Homo sapiens: one gene and its partners. The protein of the gene in region 4 purifies or fractionates together with the protein of the main gene of each other region. This does not show direct contact. Each region holds a gene or a part of one and is shown on either strand. Other genes may lie near its edges.

Region 1 (3,500 bases), on a different chromosome or scaffold from region 4:
CAAAGCTCTGTGCTGACACCATTGGCTCTAGCATCTCCTTGTGAACAGGGCACTGGGTAAGGAATGTGGGGCAGAACAGGTGTGAACCTGGCACAGGGTCAGCTCTGGGCAGCCCTGGCGTCTGACAGGAATGCTGTCCTGCATGTGACCTTGGGAAAAGTCCCCTGATCTATTCCAGTCTCTTGTTTCATGCCCTGTTCAAACCTCCCCCAGCCTGTTCAGGGCAGAAGAGTGCAGACAAAAGAAAGATTGGTTTCGGTTCTAACTTCACACACTAGGTTGTCAAGGGCCTAAAAGGGGACTGAGAATGGCTTCCAGAATGGGAGGAGTCAGATGACTTAAAAACAAACAAACAAACAAACAAAGAAACAAAAAACATGGCTGAGTACAGTGGCTCACACCTGTAATCCCAGCACTTTGGGAGGCCAAGGTAAGTGGATCATCTGGGGTCAGGAGTTCGAGACCAGCCTGGCCAACATGGTGAAACCCCATCTCTACTACAAATACAAAAATTAGCCAGGCATGATGGTGCATGCCTGTAATCCCAGCTACTTGGGAGGCTGAGGCAGGAGAATTGCTTGAACCTGGGAGATGGAAGTTGCAGTGAGCCACTGCATTTCAGCCTGGGCGACAGAGCAAGACTCTTGTCTCAGAAAACAAAAACAAACACACACATACACACGCACCAAAAACCATAGCCTCAAAGTGCTGATGAACTTGGAAGTTGGAACCATGACTTTTGACAATTGCATAACTATGTTTTTTTCCTCTTTGAAACTTAACTCATTTTGCTGCAATTTGGAGGGGAAGGGCAGCAGCAGGGGCCAGGGCCTCTGGAACTAGGTCTTAACTCTATTTCCCTTAGTTCCCATTTCCCACTAGAAAACTCTCTATGTTTTGGAAAAACATCAGTTATCAGAGCAGGAAAGGACCTCAGAGGCAGCTATCCCAAGTGGACTCATTTTGCAGAGGAGAAACAGAGGCTCTGGGCAGCAGATGAATGTGTCAAGGCGGCCCAGGGTCTCCTGACCACTCTGTCTTATGAGAATCTCCAGGATCATGCTCCACCCGCAAGTGGCCCTCAGCATCTTACCAGGAGCTCCTTCACAGGGAAGTCCTTTAGGTTTCCATCTCGGGGAGAGTCCAGCACCACGGGGAAGCCTTTATGGGGGGCCTCGATGTAGCCAAACTCAATTTCATCCTGCAGGGACACCAAGGAGAACTGTTAGACGAATCCAGGGGACAATTTGTGCACATGGGCAGAAAACTCGAGAAACACAAGAGCACAAAGGAAGAAGAACGTCTGTCTTGTTCCCCATTCCCTGGTCCCCCATCCTCCTCCCCTCACACTGATGATGGCAGCACAGGTGTCCATAGGCAGTCTCTGCACATCACAGGCAGGTTTCTTACCGATATCAGCCCCATTTTTTTTTTTTTGAGACAGGGTCTCACTCTGTTGCCCAGGCTGGAGTGCAGTGCCATGATTATGGCCCACTGCAGCCTCAAACTCCTGGGCTCAAGCGGTCCTCCTGCCTCAGCCTCTGAGTAGCTACGACTACAGGTGTGCACTACCATGCCAGGCTAATTTTTAAATTTTTTTTTGTGGAGTCAGGGTCTTGCTATGTTGCCCAAGCATGTCTTGAATTCCTGTTCTCAGGCAATCCTCCCACCTCAGCCTCCCAAAGTGCTGGGATTACAGGTATTATCCACCACGCGTGGCCTAGACCTCATTTTAAAAAACACAATAACCAGGCGTGGTGGTGCATGCCTGTAGTCCCAGCTACTTGGGAGGCTGAGGTGGGAGGATTGCTTAAGCCCGCAAGGCGGAGGTTGCAGTGAGCTGAGATCATGCCACTGCACTCCAGCCTGGGTGACAGAGCGAGACCTCGTCTCAAACAAAACAAAACACACAAATAGCAAGCAGCATCCTGAATATGTTTTCCGTTGAGTAACAACTTAACTTGAAGCACATCCTGTATCCATATTGAGAGACTGGCTTCATCCTTTTTAGCGGTTGCACAGAACTTCCGGGAAGGCCGTTACTCAGTCCTCCACAGATGGACATTTAGGTTGCTTTGCAATCTTTTGCTACTACAAGAAGCAGCACTGTAGTGCACTTGTATGTTTATGTCTTTGTGCACATGTGCAGATATGAGCTGACAGAAGAATCCCCATCTGCAGAGCTGCTGGGTGCCAGGCAGTTCACATGAAGCCAACTCTTCTTTGCTTGACCCGGGGGCCATGTCCTTCCCAGCCTGGACCTGGGCTCCTTACCTGGATCCAGCGATCGCCTCGGTTTAGGTACTGGAAGCAGACCTTCAGCTCACAGTTGGTTTTCTCCACAAGGTTCTTCACCTCTTTCAGGAACAGGTAATTATCCTTCATGCTGAGAAGTTGGGGGAAGAAGGAGAGGCCAGGAGAAAGGGTGAGGAGGGGCCAGAGTCATCTCCCTGAGATGGTGACAGCAGCTGGTATCTCTGGGCTGTGCCGGGCAGATCAGTCTACACCTGTGCTCACGGCCACCTTTATAAAGGCCGCTGGAATCAAAGGCCAAGTAAACCCACCCACTCATGTGGCGTTTGTCAAGGTCATGAACAAATAAAATGAGGGGGGGAACTCTCACCCCCACCTGTCCCAATGCCTTACACCTCTGACTCCACAGATTTTCAAAGAAGAGCTCTGCCTGGCATGAAGATGGGATGGACGTGAGGACCCCAAGGGTCCCTTTTGGGTTGCTAGCCATCTAATCACAGGCACTTTTTCCCTTGGTTCTCATCTTGCTGTTGTGGACCTAGCTCATAATAGGTGGTCAATAAAAGTCTGTTTAATGAATGAGTCAGATGAGCTGCATTTCCACTGCATAGGAGGTTGCTAACTGCCTGGTAGAGGGTTAAGCAAGAGAACAGAATGGCAGCTATTATTTTTAGAGCATACCCTGTGTGCTGGGCCTTGGATAAATGCTTTGCCTGCTTCATCTCATTTAATTCTCACAGTGACTCTACGATGTGGGCATTTCAGAGAGGCCAAGAGAGTTGCTCAAGGTAACACAGTGGTAAGTGACGGGGCCAGGAACTAGACTCATGTCCATCTGACTCGGCCCTTGGCCACTCTGCCACGCTGCCTCTCCAGGCTGGGGTCACCCCTTACCAGCACACAAACACCGACACGGGAGGCAGGATGTTGGGGGTCATGATCCACGGAGCAATCCGGAATATCACGGTGTCCGTGAAGATGGGAGTCAGGGGAATGTCCTGGGTGTGGGAGACAAGGCGTGGGGGATCAAAAGGTTTTGTCAGGTGCTTTCTTTGCCTGCCTTTCAAAGCGGGTGAAACTGATGACAGTGAATACATTTCCTCAGGACTTGCTATGCACCAAGCCTGTGCTAAGTACTTTCACATGTGCCAATTCTTTTCTGCCTTCCGACCACCGCAGGAGGTAGATACTGCTATGATCCTCACTTTTCAGATGGGGAAACCGAGTCACAGGGCTGTTAACCGCCC
Region 2 (3,500 bases), on a different chromosome or scaffold from region 4:
TCATCAGGAGGGGTGCCCCTTTCTCAGCACTCCTTCACACTGGGGGCTGGCTCCCACAATCTCTCCACTTGTCCCTTGGTGTCTAAGGCTTTGGAGGGGCCCCTAAATCCTCGGCGACGGCCACCCTCAGTTGAGGCCTTTGAGAATTAACTTGTCTCCAGTCAATAAGCCTTCAGAACGCCCCATGGAGCGCCTGGCCCTGAGCTAGATGCCGCGGCCAAGGGTAAGATGGAGAATTGGTGCTCCCTGCCCTCAGGAAAGACATTCCTAGCCTGAGTGAGGAAGTGGGTGACACATGCATCTGAGGAATGAGAAAGCCATGGATGTCCCTTGGCTTTGAGCGGGGCTGGGCGGTGCGGGGGTGAGCACTGCTGAGTGGAGTGTGTCCCCATGTCTGGTCCAGGATTGAAGGGGCAGGGCCCAGCCAGCACCCCTGTCTCTTCCTGCCATTCCCCTCATCCACACCTTCTAGGTCTCATCTTTTGGGGCTCTGTACTCTGCAGGCACTAACTCCTCCATCATCTGGAACATCCTCATGCTGGTCTCTGTGCACCCGCCATGGCCCTGCCATCCCTGTGTGACCCCAGGCAGCTCCCCTGACCCTTGCCCCACCCTGGCTCCTCCTCTAGGCTCACCTCCACATGGCTGCCATGCTTATCTGTGCCTTGGCCACCCACACCTGCACACAAGGTGCCCAGTGGAAGGTCCCCGGGGTGTCTGTGTGAGTGTGTGCCCATGCCAGCACTGGGAGGCAGGACCATGCTATGATCTGGGAGGGGCCTGTGTGGGGCCAGCCTGCACGCGCTGTGTGTGTCTCTGTAGGCAGGTGGTGGGTGTGTGCCAGTGGTGTCTGGGTCTCTCTGGGTGTGCCTCTCTCACCTTGCTCAGGGTCTGAGAGCAGGTTCACTGGCCCCTGGCGGTGTCTGGGGTCCACACAGAGCCGCTCCACACTCTGCCCAGGCAGTGGCAGGATGGCAGAGGGAGCCTGTATGGGGGCTGGGACAGCCGGGGCACGGCTCCTGGAGCAGGAAGGGCAGGCTGGGGGCAAGGATGTGGAAAGGGGCCAAGGGGGCTGGGAACTTACCTGGGGTTTGGGTTGTCATGGTTGTTTCTAAAAGAAGAAAAAGTCTGGGTTTAGGCAGCCCCTTCCTGAGGAGTGGGAGGTTGAGGGAGGGAGCAGTGACTAGGTGTGGCTGGGTTCCCTCACTACTTCAACATCGAGACATGTGACAGGTCACTCCCCTCCCAGGATCCCCCTGTTAGGACAGGGCCTCTGGCCTTGGGGGCACCTTCGATTTTCATATTCATGACACGAGACACAGCTGGATCAGGATTTGAGGTGGCTGGTGGTGCTGAAGCAGGCACTAGGGCAGGAACATCCGGAAACAGAAAGGGAGCAGGAAGGCAGTCAGGAGGCGGGCAACCAGCAGCGCTGCCACCAAGCTCCAGCCCCCCATCCTGCCACACATACACTCCACCTAGAATGGCCTTTGTCACAGGAGATTTTCAAACAGAAGAGCATGCTGTCAGGGATAGGTCCAGCCTGGCTGTGCAGCTGCATTCGAGTGCAGATTTGGGGATCAGAAAACAGTTCAAGGGACCTCTGTTGGCTTTCTGAACGGAGGAAGCCCTCCCTTCCTAGAAGGTTTCCTCATGAGTCAGCCTCTAGAGTATAGTGGATCCTACTCAGTGAAAGTAAAGGACAGGTGAAGTCCTGCCTTGGGGAGGGGAGGCCTGATGTCCATACACTGGGTAGTGGGGAGAGGGGCCTTCAGAGAGAGGAAGCTGGCAAGGACTGCTCCAAAGAGCGCTGTGATGTGCATGCTTGGCCAGTCCGTGCCCCTCTTAGGGCCTAGGGTCCCCTCTGAACAAGGAGTGTGGGAGAGGCTGCTCTGTCATGGCCTGTGGTCTGACAACCTAGGGGCAGCTAAAGGACCCGGGTGAGCTCGCATCTGAGGAGATGAGACGCTAAGGATGGGGCAGGGGGCAGCTGCAAAGAGCTGGGAAGGCGAGGACAGCCTCCTTAGGAAATGCACTCCCACCCCAGCCCCAGTAAATGATCCCAGGTTGAACTGACCCACAATTACTTCACATCGTGCCCTCAGCAGCCGTCCCTGGCCTGGCCCTGTGGTGCGTGCTTTACCCCACCCCCCTCTATGGGGCAGGCTCAAGGACCACCGTGGGAAACCGAGGCCCTCGCAGGGCCGGAAGGCAGCTTACAGATGGCCAGACGGCGGAAGGGGTGGTAAGCAGCATGGTCAGGAACATCAGGAGGTCCTGGGAGTCCAAGTTGCCTGGAGCTGAGAACCCCAGGTCTGAAATTCATCCGGGAGCCAGCAGCTCCAGCTTTGGAGAAATCGACAGATGCAGTCTTCTCTCAGGTGGGGTGTGGGTCTTCACAGCCAGGGCTTGAGATCCACCCAGGAGTGGGTGCGGAGAGGGCAGCTATGTCCCCTCTCCCCACACCCGGCCAACTTGGGGAGCCTCTCCCCCAACAGCTGGGAGATGAACAATAATGGACCTCCCTCAAGCTCCCCCCCAGGGATGTCATGCCTCCCCCTGGCAGAAACCCTCAAACTACCTTGTCTATTCCATCCTCTTCTTGGAGAAAAGGAAGCCTCTGTGTGGTCAAGTCCTGATCAGATACAACTGAACTGAGGCCCGAGGGCTGTCACCAGCCAGAGGAGCTGGGCAAGGCACTACCCTCCACAGCCAGGACTGAGCCCAATCTGTCAATCTCCCCTCCCCCCACCTCCTACTTTGTCACCTGGTTTTGGTATTTTTGCTCCCTGGAGATAATATTTGAAGAAAGTGGAACCTGGAAATCAGTGGGACCTGGGTTTGCATCTTGCACCCACCTTCCTGTGGCCCCACTTGGATGGGGACTGTATTCTTAGTGCTGGGGACAGGGCCTGAGGCACAGCCAATATTTGAATGCACAGGCGACTAAATGCACCAGCATGCTGGGTCAGATTACACTGCCTCCTGGCAGCAGGGATGGGCTGGAGAGGCCTGGGTGGACCTGGGCCCTGGCCAGCAACCTCACAGGGCTGGTGCCCTGGACCCTGTGTTAGCAGACCACCACCCAGCACAGCCTTTGAGGATGTTCGCTGCTTACCTGAGTGGACATTCCTGTTTCTACTTTCTGGATAAAACAAAGAGAGAGAGAGAGACAGACAGACAGAGACACAGACAGACACCGTCAGGGTGGTTTTCATCAATTTGAAGCGCTTGTGTTTAATCTTGCTACCCAATCCTGGACTATATCGTAGGTGCAATGAATTTGGGGAGACAGGAGACCCGGCTTCACTTTCCTCATCAGTGAATAGGCTGAATCTCCCAGGGGGAGTCTGTTGGGGGCACGGTTGGGGTCTTGGTCAGGATGCAGGGAAGATCGGGGAGAACGCTGGGTCCAAACTCTGCTACCTGGGAGGCTGAGATCTCAACCCCACACCCACCGCCTTCCATGGGCTTCTCAGCAACTTGAGACTGCTCTTGGT
Region 3 (2,891 bases), on a different chromosome or scaffold from region 4:
CTTTAAAAATGTAATAGGATTGCTTGTAACTCAAAGGATAAGTACTTGAGGGGATGGGTACACCATTCTCCATGATGCATTTGTTTCACATTGAATGCCTGTATCAAAACATCTCATATACCCCATAAATTTATACACCTACTATGTACCCGCAAATTTTCTTAAATAATTTTTTAATTTTTATAAATTATTTAGATCAAACTCTTGAAGAACTTATATTCTATAATCACTGAAAACCACTCATTTATTTTATTCTAACATGCTTTTAGAGAAAATCAATTTTGCAATTGTTTTCTTTCTAATACAGAAAGGTTTGAATACTGAAAAAGAGAAAATTAAAGTCAGAATGGATAGAATGAAAAACGTTCTGATTGTTGGACAAGCTAAAGTCATACAAATAATTGAATATTGGGTATCAATTCTTAAACTAGAAGAGTCAAATTAGTGTTTTGTTCAAAGATCCTTTTATGTTTTCATGTTAATTATTTCAACAAGTTGTATTACTTGTCTGAAGCAGAAAATATCTTTCTAAATACAGCTTTGAAGGCTTGTTTAACTTGCTGATTCCTCAGAGTATAAATAAATGGGTTTAACAACGGGGCAACTGAAGTATTGAGCACAGTTACTCCTTTGCTTAAAGCAACTCTTTCATTCGCTGATGGCTTTATGTAGATAAACATACAACTACCATAAGTGATGGAGACAACAATCATGTGAGAAGAGCAGGTGGAAAAGGCTTTCTTCTTTTGCTGAGCTGAAGGGAATTTCAGAATTGTCTTGATGATGTAAGAGTAAGAAAGGATTACTAAAAACAATGTGACAATAAGTGTCATCACAGCTAATAAAAAGGCAATCAGTTCCAGTAAATGTGTGTCTGAGCAAGAAAGTTGTAGGATAAGAGAAATGTCACAAATGAAATGATCAATGATATTTGAAGCACAGAAATCCAAGTTAAGACCTAAAATCAGTGGAGTGAAAATGATCAGGAATCCAGTTACCCAAGAACTGAATACAAGCTGGTAGCAAACTTTGTTACTCATGATGGACATATAACGCAAAGGTTTGCAGATGGCAACATAGCGATCATAGGACAGAGCAGCTAGAAGGAAAAATTCTGTAACCCCCAAGAATATGTAAAAAAACAACTGAGATATGCAACCATTACAGGAAATGGTCTTTTCCCTGGTAACAATGGTGATTAGGAATCTGGGAATGCAAGCAGTTGTGAATGAAATTTCCAGAAAAGAGAAATTACGGAGGAAGAAATACATTGGAGTCTTGAGCTGGGAATCCAGCAGAATGAGGGCAATGATAGTGAAGTTCCCTATCATGCTCAACACACAATTTAGAAGTAGAAATAAGAAAATTACAATCTGTAACTGAGAATTATCCGTCAGTCCCAGAAGAATAAATTCTATCTGCCTTGTATGATTCTTCATTTCTCTGTTGTGATTTCAATCAAATTCTAGGAATAAAAAGGTGCAAGGGTTGAGCTAGGTCCAGGAAAAGATACAGGAAAGTTTCCACACTTACAAACATATACATTTAAGAGGTAGTACTCCATGGATGTTGAAGATATGATATAGAACTATGCAACAGAAATTGTAAACTAGGGGTTTAAAAGTACAACAAACATCATCTCACTTTGGAAAATTGATTTGCAAAGCCCTTAATAGTTGATTTTCAAGCTAGTTTTTTTCATGCTTCCACTTCAAGATTCCACTTAATTGTAACTAATTCCAGGTTTGTCAAGTTGTAAATAAATTAGGTAAAGATCTTGGTTCAGGATTCAAAAATAGTTCATTCATTTTAAAATTATTAATTTCATCTAAAGAAAATGATGCCAGTGTAATGAATTAAGACCTAAGTTAAGGGAAGGCACAGTGACTCATGCCTGTAATCCCAGCACTTGGGAGGCCAAACTGGGGATCGCCTGGGGCCAGGAGTTGAAGATCAGCGTGAGCAACATAGGGAGATGCCAGCTTGGGTGACAGAGAGAGACCCTGTCTTTTTTGTTAAGAATTAAAAGACCTACAGTCAAATTTTGAAACTTTACATTATATTATATTAAAGTGACATTTGTTTAAAGCCCTGCTATACAGCCTTTTTCAACTTCTCTATGAACTACATATGAAGATACGGAAAAATGCCCCTAAAAAGTATGAGTTGATACCACAACAAAATAAATACTAGTTGAATCTAGGAAACTCAAAACTTAATATTATGCATATATTGCCACATTTACAAAAAAAAAGTCTATTTAGGACTTAAAAATTTTGTCTTGTGTAATCAAGACCATAGGAGTAAGAAAGAAAACAGATAAAACATTGCATCTCTTCCAAGTCGCTACAGTTACAGGTACCTACAGTCTAAACCTACTTTCTAGATGTAATACTGTGAGTGAAAAATCAGTGCTTTCTTGCCACACTATCTGAGTCCCCAACAATTATTCATGCAGGTAACCAACGACTATTAATTTAGGGAAATAATGGGGTAGGAAGGGTGTAATCATTTGAATGGGACAAAAGGATTCTGATGGTATTTTAAGTTTGTTATTGTAGGTTTCCCAGAGTATCAGGTTGCCAATGAAAAAAGTGAAGTGAGTAATAGTACAGAAGTAAAGCAAAGGTGACAGACTGCTAGGAATTAGAAAGTGGACTTAAAATCCAGCTAAGGATCTGAGAAATAACTTATCAATGGCTACTGAGAAAAAAGGCAATCCACTCTCAGGGTTAAAGTTTGGGAAGCTTCTTTATTGTTTAATAATTAATTTTTAAATGTTAAGCTGAGTATCACAAACAAACGAAAAAAATAAGACATAAGAAAGTGTAAAATGGCTAAGTTAACAGTTTAAAGTCAAAGATCTTGAAATTTTTAGAAAAGTTTAATAA
Region 4 (2,235 bases):
AGGGAGTGGCAGAGGAAGTCAGGTTGGGTGACCCCAGTAACTGCTCTCAGAGGCTGGGTGATGACCGGCTTCCTGGCTTCTCTGGAATAAACCTTTGCCACCACTTCCTGCATTTCAGCTTCAGTACAGGCAGAGAATGGGGATAGGTGGGGGAATGAGGTGAGAGGGGAGATGTTTAGAGGTGTGGAGGGCGGCAGAGGTTTGAACAGTGCAGACAAGGGGAGAGTTCAGCCGACTGGGGAGGAAGAGGATGGACGATGGAGCCTCTGGGCATCTGGATCAGCAGGAGCATAACATCTGGATCAGCTGGAGCGTAGCATCTGGATCAGTTGGAGCGTATGACTTTATTGATCCAGGACATGTATTTGCAGATCTGGGTGTAGACAGCTGGATGCTGGGCAGAGCCACAGGGGTAAACACCCCACGAGAGGATGCCTTGGAGGGTCTCGTCACAGACCAGGGGGCCTCCAGAGTCACTCTGGGGGTGGCAGGAAGGAGAGATCAAATAAATGTGCCAACGTGAGAGCTGTCACTTTGGGATCTGGGGCAGTGGTGGGGAAGGAAGGAGTTGGGTTGGGATAAAGACGAGGATGGGATGGGGTTGGAATTAGGTATGAGCTGGAAGGTAGGAATGGAGGTGGACTTCAGGTTATGGGAGGTTGGGCTGGGGGATGAGAATGAAGGCACAGTGAGACTGGGGTTGGGATTGTAGTTCATGGAAGGTGAGGGGATGAAAATGGGCTTGGAGATGGGAATGGGGTGGGGTTGGGATGGAAATGGGATTGAGGATAGGGATGAGGAGGGGGTTAGGTCTGGGTAAGAGTTGGGGTCAAGGATGGGTTTGGGAATGGAGTTGGGGATCGGGCACAGGGTCTGCTCTTTTCCCATAACCTCCCTGTCCTCCCTCCCAGGAGTCAGAGACTCTCCCTGTTCAGACCCTACCTGGCAAGGGTCCTGGCCCCGGTCCAGTCCAGCACATATCATGTTGTTGGTGACCACGCCAGGGTAGAAGACCTCACACTCTTTAGGGCTCAGGATAGTGATGCTGGAGCAGGTCAGGCCCTTGTTGTACTTCACTGAAGGGAGAATATGCCAGTAATCCCTGGGTCCAGCCCCCAATCCTTGGGGAGCCAGGAGTCCAGATACAAGACCGTTTCTATCCTAAGCCCCAGCCCCTCCTCCTTCAGACTCAAGAATCCTGGCCCCAGCCCCTCCCCACTTAGACCCAGGAGTCCAGGCCCCCAGCCCCTCCTCCCCTCAGACTCACAGACCCAGGCATCTAGGACCCCAGCCCGTCCTCCCTCAGATCCAGGAATCCAGTCCCCAGCCCATCCTTCCTCAGACCCAGGGGTTCAGGCCCTCAGCCCCCTCCTCCTGAGGTTCCGGCCTCAGAGCCCCAGCTCTTGCCTCTCCGGGCGGCCGTGGTGCCCCAGCCAGCAACCTGGCACTGGTCTCCGGGCTGAGCACAGCGGTAGGGAAGCTGCAGGGCCCGGACGCGGGGCCCCAGCACTACGGGCCTGGCCAGCTTCAGCAACATGAGATCGTGCTCATCCGTTCGCCTTGGCAGGATGGGGCCTGAGCCCTGGTGGTACTTGGGATGGACAACAGAGCGAGTGGTCCGGCGGAGCTGCTCTCCCTGAAGAAGCAGCAGGTGGTCATCCCCTACTCGAGCCCACAGTGGCCTGGGGGAAGGAAGAGGCATGTGAAGGCAAACCCTTCATAGGGACTGGGAAAGCAGGTGGGCAGTGACGCAGGGCCTGGAGATAGGAAGAGTCTGAGGGAAGAGGGCCTTGTGGGAGAAGGGGACCTCAGTGGACATGGGGAGGAGGAATCAGTTGTTTGAGCTCTGAGGATCTGTAGGAATTGAGGAGGGCTGGGGGCCTGGACACCTAGGTAAGCCTTCCACATTTTCTTTTCTCTTTTTCTTTTCTTTGTTGAAACAGAGTTTCGCTCTTGTCACCCAGGCTAGAATGCAATGGCGCAATCTCGGCTCACTGCAACCTCCACCTCCCAGGTTCAAGCAGTTCTCCTGCCTCAGCCTCCTTCCTGAGTAGCTGGGATTACAGGCACCCACCACCACACCCAGCCTTTTTTTTTTTTTAATTTTTTTAAAATTTTTTATTTTTTATTTTATTTTATTTTTAGTTGAGAAGTGGTTTCACCATGTTGGCCAGGCTGGTCTTGAACTCCTGACCTCAGGTGATCCACCCGCCTTGGCCTCCCAAAGTGCTGGGA
Region 5 (3,500 bases), on a different chromosome or scaffold from region 4:
ATAGGGAAGCTGTCGGGGAGCGGGAGGCTGGCCCAGGAGCCCTTACTTGGCTCGGTGCCCATTTGGGTTTCCTTTCACTTGGTAAGAAGCCAATTGATGAGCTTGTGGGGCCATACCAGAGGTGGCTGTCGTGCCCTTGCTCTGTGGGGCCCTGCCTGGGGGAGGAAGGTCCCTGCCTGTGCTTCCCCAGCCCGCACAGCTCATCAGGGAACCCGGATCACCAGGGAGCCTCCCCCAGTGTCTCTGATACTTTAGACCTTGAAGGGGTTGCAGCATTCTCAGGCTGACACCTGATTTCTAATGCTCTTTAAAATTTAAAAGAAATCTTTTTAATATGAAAACTCCAACCCTATATAAAAGTGGAGAGAATGGTGTAATCCACCCCTTGAGGACCTTATGTTGGTGGCAAAGACGCAAACACCCAGAGAAGGAAAGGGCCTGGCCGTAGGCTGCACAGTATTCCATGCACACTCCCAATCCAGGGCTCACTGTGATTCCCACTTCAGGCCTCAGTCCTGGTCAGCACCAGGCCACTGGCCCAGAGCATTGATCCCATGGCAGACAGGCTGCTTGGGGAACTGCCCCCAGGTGAGCTCTTTGCTCTGTGAGTCCTCCAGGAGGAGGAAAGGGCAAGAGCCCCTCCATCCCACTGCAGCTGGCTATGCCCATGTCTGCAGAATGCATCTCAGAGAGGAAGAGAGTTATAACCACACAGCTTTCCATGCAGTTCTAACAGCTGAACTGAGAGGAGCTGGGGAAAGGATGTCTGGTTTGGATGTCCGGACCAGCTACCATCTGGGCCATAGTGACTAAGGAGAGTCTAGAACCAGGGTGGTGAAGGGTCTGCCTACAGGCCAGGCCTGCTAAGCTGGCTGTGGTCACCTGAGGCGCAATGGAGAAATGTTTCTGAGGTTCTGAGGTTTGTCCATCAGCAAAATCTGACTGTGGTCCAGGGTAGATCTAGGTTGCAGGGACTCGAGGTGTGTACGATGTGGGAGGCCTCTTTAAGCCAAGGGAGACGAGATTACAAATATAAGCTGAGATACAGGACTGTGGAAGAGTGTGTGCACGTGTGGTGTCCTGCAGCATGAGCTGTTGCTGTGACCTGAGATCCGGGGTCAGGCCCCAGGACTTCTGCCTGGTGTCTCCTGCCCAGGGGGCACCCTTCCCAGCCTGCCTCAAGCTCCTCCTCCCATTCGGAGCCCAGCTGGCCAGTGTTCAGTTAGCCACAGAGACTCTAAGCACGTGTGTGCGTCTGGGAGGTAAGGGCGTGTTTTGGGGATGAGGGAGAAGAGGATGAGGCCTCATGCCACTGGGGAGTGCTCACTTCCCTGGGGAGACATTGAAACCAGAGAGTAAGGAAAAGTACTGTGGATGATCAAATGCTCTTTTGGGAGGCTCAGGCCGTGGGAGTTTAGGAAGAGAAGAGCTGCTGCAGACCCTCGCCCTTGGTGTAGTCGGAGGACTAGCAGCAGTAGCACCAGGGAACTCACTAGAAACTCAGAGTCCCCGGCCGGCCCCGGCCTGCTGAGGGGGAATCTGCATGTAGGCACATGATGGTTGGAGAAACCCTGTTGGATGTGACAGAGCTCTGTCGCTGGAGTCAGGATTATGGACTCTTCCTGTGACCTTGGCAAATCCCTCCTGCTCACATGAGGAAGGGGCTGCACTAGGTTAGCTCTGGCCTTCTGTGGCTGGGACTGTGCTTAGGGGAGCACTGTCATCTTCCCTGGCTGCTGTATATTAAGCCAAGCCTCCTTCTGAAAAGCCAAGGGGAGGGGAAAGGCAGGTCCAAAGTGGCATCACCACCACCCATGACATGCCTAAGCCCAGCCCCTGCCAGCTGCACCCTGCACTGCTAGGCTACTGGGCAGCAGATCTAGGCCTCCAGGGGCCTGGGGAAGGAGGCCCTGCTGCCTGGCTGGGAGAGGAAGGAAAGATTTCCAGTCACTTCCAGCCTGTGGTCCTTCCTCATCGCTGTGGGCAGAAGCAGAGTGGTACTGTGGGGGGCCTGGTCAGAGCTCCTCCCTGTCTCCTGTCCCCCCAGCAGCGGGCCACTCTCCTTTGAGTTCTTCTGGAAGTTGTCCTCTTTAAAATATGGACCCTGCTTCCCCTCTCCCAGGGCTGGTGTGGGGATGTCAGATCCTAGGTAAGGGGTCTAGGGATGAAGGGGGTGGCCTGGGCCTGAGGCTGCAGACTGGCTTTGCTCACAGGTCTTTGCTACAAGCTGAGCACATCCTGCCTCCTTCCACCCAAGTCACTCATTCATTTGGCCAGTACCAGATGATGAGGGCCGGGCCCTGGTGACCCTCACCTGGCTTTCAGGCCATGGGACAGAGGCTGCCTGCCCCAAGCCAGGGCCTAGTGGAGAGGGGCCCAAGGACAGGGCAGCTTCCTCCAGTTGGCCTAATCCCCTACCCTCTTGGAAATTCCCTTGGGAGGGGTATGAGGGGGCAGCCTGTCTGATTCCTCTCAGCTTCCCCCTCAGAGCCAGCCGGGAGCAGGGCCAGCGTGGGGAGGCAGGAGGCGTTTGGCGGGGAAGGAGGGCCGGCTCTGTTTCCAGAGTTGGCTTTCCCCAGCCGGCGCTGGGGAACATACTGTCCCAATTAGGAGCCCTGTATTGTGTTGTATGTGTTTTCATGGTTTTTGGGGGGAGAAGTGGGGAGGGGAGGATACTGTCAATCCTGCAGCAGGCAGGGCTCAATCAAGGGTGCCCTGTCTCTAGTGCTGGGCTGTGCCGTGGGTCATCCACGACAGCCCATCCCCAACTCTCTCTCTGCTTTCTGGACAGGGGTGTGATGACCCGTAAGCCCTGGGCTGCCATGTGGGGGAGGACCCTGGGCCCCACCTTCAGCACCTGTCTGATGGAAGAGGCCAGGTCCAGGGTGCTCAGAGTCCTCTGGGCAGTCAGCTGGAACCTGGAAATGGGCCTGGCTTGATGGGGGAGAAGACAGAGCAATTTGGGCAGCTTTGGCCCCCAGGTGGGAGGGTGCGGGTGGAGTTTCGGAGGGTATGGGTTTGCCTGATGGGCTGGAGCACTAGGCAGGGCGGAGTGTTGAGCCCCACATGGTATGGATGGCAAGTGGTGAGGGCGAGGCGTGGGCAGGTGGTTGAAGAGCCACGAGCGTCCTCTCCCAGCCTCTTGCCTGTTGGCAGCTTAGCCCCATCCTCTGAGCCCCAGGTCTGGGACAGCTGCTCTGGCTGTGCCTGCCCCAGTGGGATCACCATGGGTCCCTGTCTCCTCCCTCCCTCCAGAACTATGCTGCCATGAAGCTGGTGAAGCCCTTCAGCTGAGGACTCTCCTGCCCTGTAGAAGGGGCCGTGGGGTCCCCTCCAGCATGGGACTGGCCTGCCTCCTCCGCCCAGCTCGGCGAGCTCCTCCAGACCTCCTAGGCCTGATTGTCCTGCCAGGGTGGGCAGACAGACAGATGGACCGGCCCACACTCCCAGAGTTGCTAACATGGAGCTCTGAGATCACCCCACTTCCATCATTTCCTTCT
Region 6 (3,500 bases), on a different chromosome or scaffold from region 4:
CCCAACCAGGAGCCAGGACTGGACATCTCATGACAAGATGCCTTCAGTCCTGCTGTGGTTAGGCAGGCGGCAGAAATTAGTATGAGGAACCCAGGACAACAGGGCAGCCAAGTTGGATTCAGGGCTCTCTGAGGTAACAGGAGGGCCCACAGCCACAGTGACTGCCCGTGGGGCTGGTGAGAAGTTGGGGGCACAGTTGGGCCCGGAAGGCTGGAGGGGAACACACACTGGGCAGGCCTGCACTCTCTTTGGACACACAGCAGTAGGAGAACAGACCTCCTCTCGTCCCCAAGAGCAGGCTGGGCTCTATGTGGGGCCAGAGAAAAGGCCTCCCGGCCTGAGGCCAAGGGACACTTGGCCACTGACGAGAAGGGGACAGGGTCACTCACTTGAAGGCACCAGAGTAGCTGAAGTACGGTTCCTGGGAGGAGAAGGCACATTTGTTTTCCCCTGTCCCCGCACACAGGCGACACAGGTTGGGGAACTGTCCTTTATCTGCACCGGGAACACAGCTGGCTGAGAAGAACCTGGCCACAGCTGTTAAACACAGAGAAGTGGACCACAGAGTGTGAGCCAGCCCTGGTCACAGCAGGTTACACCTCCCATCCTGAGGTCTCCGTGGGCAAGGCCCCTTCCTCCACCCCTGCAGGAGAGACTCTGTCATGGGGCTGGGAGCTCGAGACATGCACCTCTGCCGAGAGCAGACTCAGCTGTGCCTCCCAAGGGCTGCTAGGGTAACGGATCCTGCCAGCAGGATGTTACAAGCTGGCCAGCCTCACCCCCACCTTGATTCATCCCACACTTTCACCTGCATGATCTGTGTGGCCTGTGCTTACAACTGGAATAGAGCCCCCTGCCTGAGGCCACTCACTATCCCCCAGCCATCTTACCTGCCTCAATGGGCTCAGGTGGACCCGTCCAATTCAAGAATGGACGAAGTGTCCCTATAGGGACATTCCATCCAGCGGTCCTGCGAAGGCCTGTGTGGCAGGACTTCAGACCTTGCAGTTCGTTCAGCTGAAAGCTGCCGCCCTTCTTCACCACAGCCACGGCATAATAGTGAGTTCGTGGCTCTGCAAAGGGGCAGACAGAATTGAAAGTTCTTAGCCTGGACAAGAGGGACAAAAACAACCCATCCTGAAAAGTCTCCGGTGGGAAGGGGGAATGCTGTGCTGCAGTTTCCTCACAGCTCACGTGTGTCCTCCTCTCGTGGGTCAGCGTCAGGAGGAACGGCCTTCATCTGGCCCAGAGCCCAGCGACTCCATTCCCTACATGTGTGATGTGACCCAGACTCCACCTCCACATGTTCCCCCAGTCTTAATCCACACAGCTCAGGGCACAGGCTGAGGCCACCGTGGCCTCTGGGTCCCCAGGCAGAACTCACGTCTTTCGGTCCCGTAGACTTCCGCCGCTACAGGTCGCAGTTTGTAGGGGGCCAGGCCTGCCTCGTATATGAAACCACCATCAAGGGTCACAGCATCGGCCCTGTTTTCCTGAAAGTAAAGAGGCCAGACTGGCTTCAGCAGAAAACTCACCCAAACCCAGCAAGTGGGACTTCAGGACCTCAAAAAGTCTCCATGGCTGGAAGGGTCGTCAAAGGGGTCCGCTTTCCATCCTGTCCCCTCACTTCCTATGAGAGATGGTGAGAGCCAAGGACCCCTGTTTTGGGACAGTGAGCACCAGCCCTCTAAGTCCTGAGACTGGCGCCTGCCCTCTTTCTCCTCTGCCTGCCTGTGTCACTCTCCCGATCACACCCCTCACAGTCATCTATATTTGAAGTCGTTTGTTCTAGATACTTTCTATTTTTGCTCTATATTCATTTCTTTTAAGTTCTGTTTTATTGGATAGAAAATATAGTTATTAAGCTATCCTAAAATTTTCATAAGAAACCATGTTCCTCCGCTTCAGCACATTGCTTCCCACATGATTACATATTTCTTTGGTTTGCAATGTGGGATAGTTTAGTGGTCCCCAACTTTTTTGCCACCAAGGACCAGTTTCAGGGAATGTAATTTTTCCACAGACAGATGGGGAATGGTTTTGGGATGAAACCGTTCCACCTCTGATCATCAGGCATTGGATTCTCATAGGGAGTGCAACCTAGATCCCTCGCATGCACAGTTCACACTAGGGTTCACACTCCTATGAGAATCTAATGCCGCCGCTGATCTGACAGGAGGTGGAGCTCAGGCAGTCATGCTCACTGGCCCTCTGCTCACCTCCTGGTCTGAGGTCTAGTTCCTAACAGGCCATCAACCGGTACCAGTCCGTGGCCAGGTGGTGGGGACCCCTGGGATACATCATATTTTGTGGACTGCTTATTCCTCTAAAACTGGATACATTTTCTAACTTCTGCAGAGCCTTTACTGATTTTGTAGACAGCATAATGTTTTCTCATAATGTGGGTGTTCTATCGTGTATTGAATAATTTCCCCCAATGTTTAGCATTTAAGTTTATTTCTAACTGTTTCCTGTGAAGACTGTATTTTCATGAATATCTTTGTCCTCAGTGTTTTTCCTTGTGACCACTTGTGTCCTTGGGTAGGCAGCTGAGGGTGGAATCCCCCAGATGAGGAGCACGTTTCCCCCTGTGACCCGGGCTGCCGTTGCCATTCTGCTTCCAGAAGACTTATAATACCAATTCAGAATGGCGCTGACCGTGAGGACCAGCTTCACTCTTGAATCACCAGCAGGGCAGGCTATCATTCTATTAGCTGTTATTACTATAGAAAATGTGAGTACTAACAAATCGCTCAGGTCTGATTAGTAAGGGGAACATCTCACAAGTATTTTTTATTAATTATGAATTCCCTCTTACTGGTAACTCTGTTCATATCATTTTTCTTCTATGATTCTACATTTTTTCCAATTTGGGTTATTCTTTTATTTATTTATTTTTTCGAGCGGAGTCACCCAGGCTGGAGTGCAGTGGTACCATCTCAGCTCACTGCAACCTCCACCTCCCGGGTTAAAGCGATTCTCTTGCCTCAGCCTCCTGAGTAGCTGGGACTACAGGCGTGTGCCACCATGCCTGGCTAATTTTTTTTTTTTTGTATGTTTAGTAGAGATGGGGTTTCACCATCTTAGCCAGGATGGTCTTGATCTCCTGACCTCGTGATCCACCTGCCTTGACCTCCCAAAGTGCTGGGATTACAGATGTGAGCCACCACGCCCGGCCTTGAGTTATTCTTTTATAGAGTGTAAATAGTAATCATGTGTCAGAGCTGGCGCATATTCATTCATTCCAGTCCTTTCTAATTTTTTTATTTAAATATTTTCTATGGGCTATGAATTACATTTTCTGTATTTTAGAATATCTGTTTGTTTCGTGATTTAGATCATCATTTAAGAGATTTCTATTTCCTCTACAGTTCTGCTAGTTAACCTGCCCCCTAGTTTTTCAATAATACAAGTTTTATTTTTAACCATTTAATCTATCTCAACTTTATTTGAATGAATGGTATGTAGTACTGATTTCAAACAGGGATCTTATTTTCCGA
Region 7 (4,082 bases), on a different chromosome or scaffold from region 4:
AATGTGTGACATCTTTTTCTGCCTCCCCTTAGAGGACTCCCCATGTACTCGCCTCCAGTCCACCAGGCCCTTACCTCTCCTGCAGTCTCATCTCCCCAATCCTGGGTGTCTCCTGCCAGGCCGCTGCTAAGCTCTGCCCAGTCATGGTTACCTCCCCACCTCCCCAGCTGCAAGGAGGATTCATCCGGCAACCAGTTGAGGCTAGATTCTCAGCAGCTTTATTGAATATTGAGAGGTGGTCTCACCTCCCACTGGACATGTGTCCTCAAGTTCATACCAGAACTTCTTTGGGACAGACAGACAGACAGGTGGCAGGGCAGGGCAGGTGTCCACGAGGGTGGGGCCAGTGCACCAGGGGCAGCTCAGCTCTCCAAAGGGGCCAGCATCTGCACCTGCTCCTGCTGCTGCTCCTGCTGCTGTTCCTGCTGTTGCTCCAGCTCAGGGAGGGAGAGAGTCTTGTCCTGGCTCTCTTTCTCCTTGAAGGTGCTGAAGAAGGAGTTGACCTTGTCCCTCAGGTCCTTCTCCAGGAAGCTCAAGTGGCCTTCCACGTCCCCCGCATGGGGGCCCAGTTTCTGCCTGAGCTGTTCCATCTGCTGCACCAGGGCTTTGTTGAAGTTTTCCCCGTAGGGCTCCACCCGGCGTCGGAACTCCTCCACCTGCTGGTCCAGGTGCCCACCCAGCTCTGCCAGTGACTTCTGCAGCCCCTCGGTGTTGCCCCTCAGGTTGCCACGCACGTCCTCGGCCAAGGGCGCCAGCCTCTGCCGCAGCTCCTCGGCACTGGCCGAGATCCTGGCCTTGAGCTCCTCGGCGTTCTTCTTCATCTGGAAGGTCAGGCCCTCAAGCTGGTGGTTGAGCTTCTCCTGCGTGTCCTGAGCATAGGGAGCCAGGCTGCGGCGCAGCTCCTCCACGGTCTGGTCAATCTTGACTTTGAATTCGTCAGCGTAGGGCGTAAGGCGTCCCTTGAGCTCCTCCACGTTCTGGTCGATCTTGGCCTTGAGCTCGTCGGCGTGGGGCCTCAGCGAGGCCTGCAGGCTGTCGGCGTTCTCCCGCAGCACTCTCTCCATGCGCTGTGCGTAGGGGGTCAGCTGGCGCCGCAGCTGCTCGGCCTGCGTGCTGACCTGGGTGCGCAGCTGGTCCGCGTAGGGCTCCAGGCGCTGCTGAAGCTCTCGCAGGTTGTCCCCGATCTTCTGGCTCACCTCATTGGCATGGGGCAGCAGCCGGGCCCTCAGCTCCTCCAGCTCCTTCCCAATCTCCTCCTTCAGTTTCTCCGAGTCCTTGGCCAGGCGTTCATGCAGCTCGGTGGCAAAGGGCACCAGCTTCTTCTGCAGGTCACCTGCGTAAGTGTTCACTTCTCCAAGTTTGTCCTGGAAGAGGGCACTGTGGGGAAGGGCACAAGGAGGCCACGTTACATTTGGCATTTACACGGCAAGACTTTGTCTGCTTGTATACCACTCGCCTTATGCACACGTGCTAGGACAGGTGAGTGCTCAGAGGTACCGAGTTCACCCTCCCTATGGTGGTGCAGATTGGAGAGGATGGGTGTCACAGACTAAGTTACGATGCTGAATTTCTATCTCAGGATCTCCCACATAGTTTGTCTCAGAATCTACCCACCATGTCACCTCCAGCAGTTTGCTTTCCCCTCCTTGTCTGCAGAGGGTGGGACTTTGAGGTCCTTCCCAGAGGGAGTGTTCTGGGCCATAGGATCACATTGTGTAACACAATGTTGTCTTCTTGACCTCTGCTGGGGTCTTCCAGTGGCACAAGGTGCTGCTTTCCTTGCCTGTGCCCAGGGGCCTCCCAAATATTCCCACCTCCCTCCCCTTGATTCCACTGGGGCCTGTCTTTCTGAAACGTATTAGAAATCAGCTCACGTGACATTTTCCTCCCTCCCTCTCTTCCATGAGCCTGAATGATAGGATGTGGCCATTTGTCAAACTCTAGAACGTCAAAGCAAAAGGACATGGCAGGGATTATTCGGTCCAAACTTCCGGTTTACATATGTGGATCCTAGGTTCAGAGGCCCGGCCAGTTAGTGGCAGGGCAGTGGGTATCCTAAGCTCAGGGCTCCTGTCTCTAAGCTCAACCCTTGCCAGTACATTGCATGGCCTTTAAGAATTCCCCGTCACCACCGCACACTGTAGTCCCTCTTACTTGAGTTGCTGGGTGAGTTCAGATTTCTGGAGATGTTCCACGGCCTCCTTGGCATTGTTGCTCAGCTGGCTGAAGTAGTCCCACATCACCGTGGCCACCTGGTCAGCACTGACCTCAGCCCTGGCTCCTGGGTGGTAACAGAGAGCAATTCATGAGGCCCCGTCTCCTGTGTGGCCCCTCTGCTCCAGCTCTGAGCTGCAGACTGGATGATGGTGGGGGTGCCTCAACCTGCCATTTTCCCTGTCTGAGCTTAGCTTTTTGGAAGCCACAGGGATATGTGAAACTGGTATAGCACCAATGCCAATGGGCCCACCACTGGGACTGGGCCAGCTCTCCTGTGAGCCACTTGGCAGCCAGGCAGACCTCATGTCCAGCTGGGGGCTGATGGGCACTCAGAAGTGTCCTTTTGCTTTGGCTCAGCCTCCATCCTGCACTACTCAGAGCAGCAGCCCAGGAGTGCCATCCAAAGACAGCTTCTACTCACCGGCGACAGCCACCAGGGCCAGGGTCAGGACCACGGCCTTCAGGAACATCCTGAGCTGCTTGCTGGGCTGGAGGAGTTTCTTGCCACACTGGATCCTCCCTACAATCAGGGGAGCTGACAGAGAGGTCCTCAGGAGAGCTCACCTGCGCTGCAGTGGGAACTGACTGAAGCTCAGAGCCAGCCAGACATTTAAACTCTCTCCCTATCGCCACCCCCCTGGCTGCCCTCCCCTCCTCCTTCCTCAGTGTGACTCCACGCTGGAAGGTGACACATTCCCAAGAGGCCTCTTGGACTTTTGTGACCCTGAGACTACGTGGAAGCTGACAGCAGATCAGGGCTCAGGCGATAGTTAGAAGTGGTGGCTGTTCCGTGCGTGGGCACCCCCACCCCCACCCCACCAACCTCAGCATGGAAGGGAGGAGGGGAACGGAAAACAGTAGGAGAAACACCTCAGGGAGCCCATGAGCCCGGGACTGATGCCTCGAGGCCCTGCTGGCGGCTCTGGGTTTGTGCCGGGCTCATGGGGGGCAAAGTCCACATCTCCTCTGTCTACCCCAGTGAAGACAGGTCCCCCCAGTCTCCACATCCGCCACTAATGCTGACTCCATCTCAGAGCACCAGACACTGGAGTGGGACCATCCAGGACTGCAGACAGCATAGTGAGCTAAAATCTAGGTCTCTTGTCAAGGTACACCCAAGAGGAGGGGGCCCTGGAGAGCCTTTGGGCAGATGGGTGTGGGAGACAGGGCCTTGTCCTGAAAGGGTTAATTGTAGAGTGCTTCATGTCCCACTCCCATGCTGTGCCTCCTTGGTCTAGTTATTCAAAGCCCTGAGCTTCAGTTTCTCCTCTGAACAATGGGATGGTTCAGTACATTAAAGAAGACATTGCTTGCGAAGTGGGTAGTACGGTCATCTCTCAGTCTCCATGGGAAATTGATTCCAGGACCCTCTGCAGATACCAAAATCCATGGATGTTCAAGTCCTTGATATAAAATGGCATAGTATTTGCATATAACCTAAGCACAGCCTCCCACATACTTTAAATCTCTAGATTACTTATAATACCTAATACGACGGAAATGCTGTGTGAATGGTTGTTATACTGTATTGTTTAGGAGGTAATCACCAAAAAAGTCTGTATATGTTTAGTACAGGTGCAATTTTTTTTTTTTTTGAGATGGAGTCTTACTCTGTCACCCAGGCTGGAGTGCAGTGGCACGATCTTAGCTCACTGCAATCTCTGCCCCCCAGGTTCAAGTGATTCTCCTGCCTCAGCCTCCTGAGTAGCTGGGATTACAGGCACCCACCACCACGCCCAGCTAATTTGTGTATTTACAGCAGAGACGGGGTTTCACCATGTTGCTCAGGCTGGTCTCCAACTCCTGGCCTCAAGCAATCCTCCCATGTGGGCCTCCCAAAGTGCTGGGCTTATAGGCGTGAGCCA

Evidence for each region.
Region 1: the proteins of KLK10 (region 4) and PADI2 purify together in Homo sapiens (affinity purification with mass spectrometry; one large-scale study listed by BioGRID and IntAct). This does not show direct contact.
Region 2: the proteins of KLK10 (region 4) and ITIH4 purify together in Homo sapiens (affinity purification with mass spectrometry; one large-scale study listed by BioGRID and IntAct). This does not show direct contact.
Region 3: the proteins of KLK10 (region 4) and OR6C70 purify together in Homo sapiens (affinity purification with mass spectrometry; 2 studies listed by BioGRID and IntAct, with this or other methods). This does not show direct contact.
Region 5: the proteins of KLK10 (region 4) and DYSF purify together in Homo sapiens (affinity purification with mass spectrometry; one large-scale study listed by BioGRID and IntAct). This does not show direct contact.
Region 6: the proteins of KLK10 (region 4) and LTF purify together in Homo sapiens (affinity purification with mass spectrometry; one large-scale study listed by BioGRID and IntAct). This does not show direct contact.
Region 7: the proteins of KLK10 (region 4) and APOA4 purify together in Homo sapiens (affinity purification with mass spectrometry; one large-scale study listed by BioGRID and IntAct). This does not show direct contact.

The regions. Positions count from the first base shown.
Region 1 is NC_000001.11:17,081,452-17,084,951, forward strand, and holds part of PADI2 (protein-arginine deiminase type-2), read right to left. Parts: intron 3,252-3,500; coding exon 3,148-3,251; intron 2,387-3,147; coding exon 2,275-2,386; intron 2,264-2,274; exon of another isoform or gene 2,066-2,263; coding exon of another isoform or gene 1,961-2,065; intron 1,202-1,960; coding exon 1,094-1,201; intron 1-1,093. UniProt on the Homo sapiens protein: Catalyzes the deimination of arginine residues of proteins.
Region 2 is NC_000003.12:52,817,173-52,820,672, forward strand, and holds part of ITIH4 (inter-alpha-trypsin inhibitor heavy chain H4 isoform 1 precursor), read right to left. Parts: coding exon 3,459-3,500; intron 3,146-3,458; coding exon 3,119-3,145; intron 2,819-3,118; coding exon 2,768-2,818; intron 2,621-2,767; coding exon 2,582-2,620; intron 2,347-2,581; coding exon 2,221-2,346; intron 1,365-2,220; coding exon 1,290-1,364; intron 1,112-1,289; coding exon 1,085-1,111; intron 997-1,084; coding exon 880-996; intron 1-879. UniProt on the Homo sapiens protein: Type II acute-phase protein (APP) involved in inflammatory responses to trauma. May also play a role in liver development or regeneration.
Region 3 is NC_000012.12:55,468,700-55,471,590, forward strand, and holds OR6C70 (olfactory receptor 6C70), read right to left. Parts: upstream 1,440-2,891; coding exon 501-1,439; downstream 1-500. UniProt on the Homo sapiens protein: Odorant receptor.
Region 4 is NC_000019.10:51,014,475-51,016,709, forward strand, and holds part of KLK10 (kallikrein-10 preproprotein), read right to left. Parts: intron 1,683-2,235; coding exon 1,408-1,682; intron 1,077-1,407; coding exon 943-1,076; intron 479-942; coding exon 326-478; 3' UTR 1-325. UniProt on the Homo sapiens protein: Has a tumor-suppressor role for NES1 in breast and prostate cancer.
Region 5 is NC_000002.12:71,683,199-71,686,698, forward strand, and holds part of DYSF (dysferlin), read left to right. Parts: intron 1-3,255; coding exon 3,256-3,294; 3' UTR 3,295-3,500. UniProt on the Homo sapiens protein: Key calcium ion sensor involved in the Ca(2+)-triggered synaptic vesicle-plasma membrane fusion.
Region 6 is NC_000003.12:46,454,906-46,458,405, forward strand, and holds part of LTF (lactotransferrin isoform 1 preproprotein), read right to left. Parts: intron 1,494-3,500; coding exon 1,385-1,493; intron 1,074-1,384; coding exon 891-1,073; intron 538-890; coding exon 390-537; intron 1-389. UniProt on the Homo sapiens protein: Transferrins are iron binding transport proteins which can bind two Fe(3+) ions in association with the binding of an anion, usually bicarbonate. Lactoferricin binds to the bacterial surface and is crucial for the bactericidal functions.
Region 7 is NC_000011.10:116,820,505-116,824,586, forward strand, and holds APOA4 (apolipoprotein A-IV precursor), read right to left. Parts: upstream 2,801-4,082; 5' UTR 2,688-2,800; coding exon 2,639-2,687; intron 2,282-2,638; coding exon 2,155-2,281; intron 1,378-2,154; coding exon 363-1,377; 3' UTR 196-362; downstream 1-195. UniProt on the Homo sapiens protein: May have a role in chylomicrons and VLDL secretion and catabolism. Required for efficient activation of lipoprotein lipase by ApoC-II; potent activator of LCAT. Apoa-IV is a major component of HDL and chylomicrons.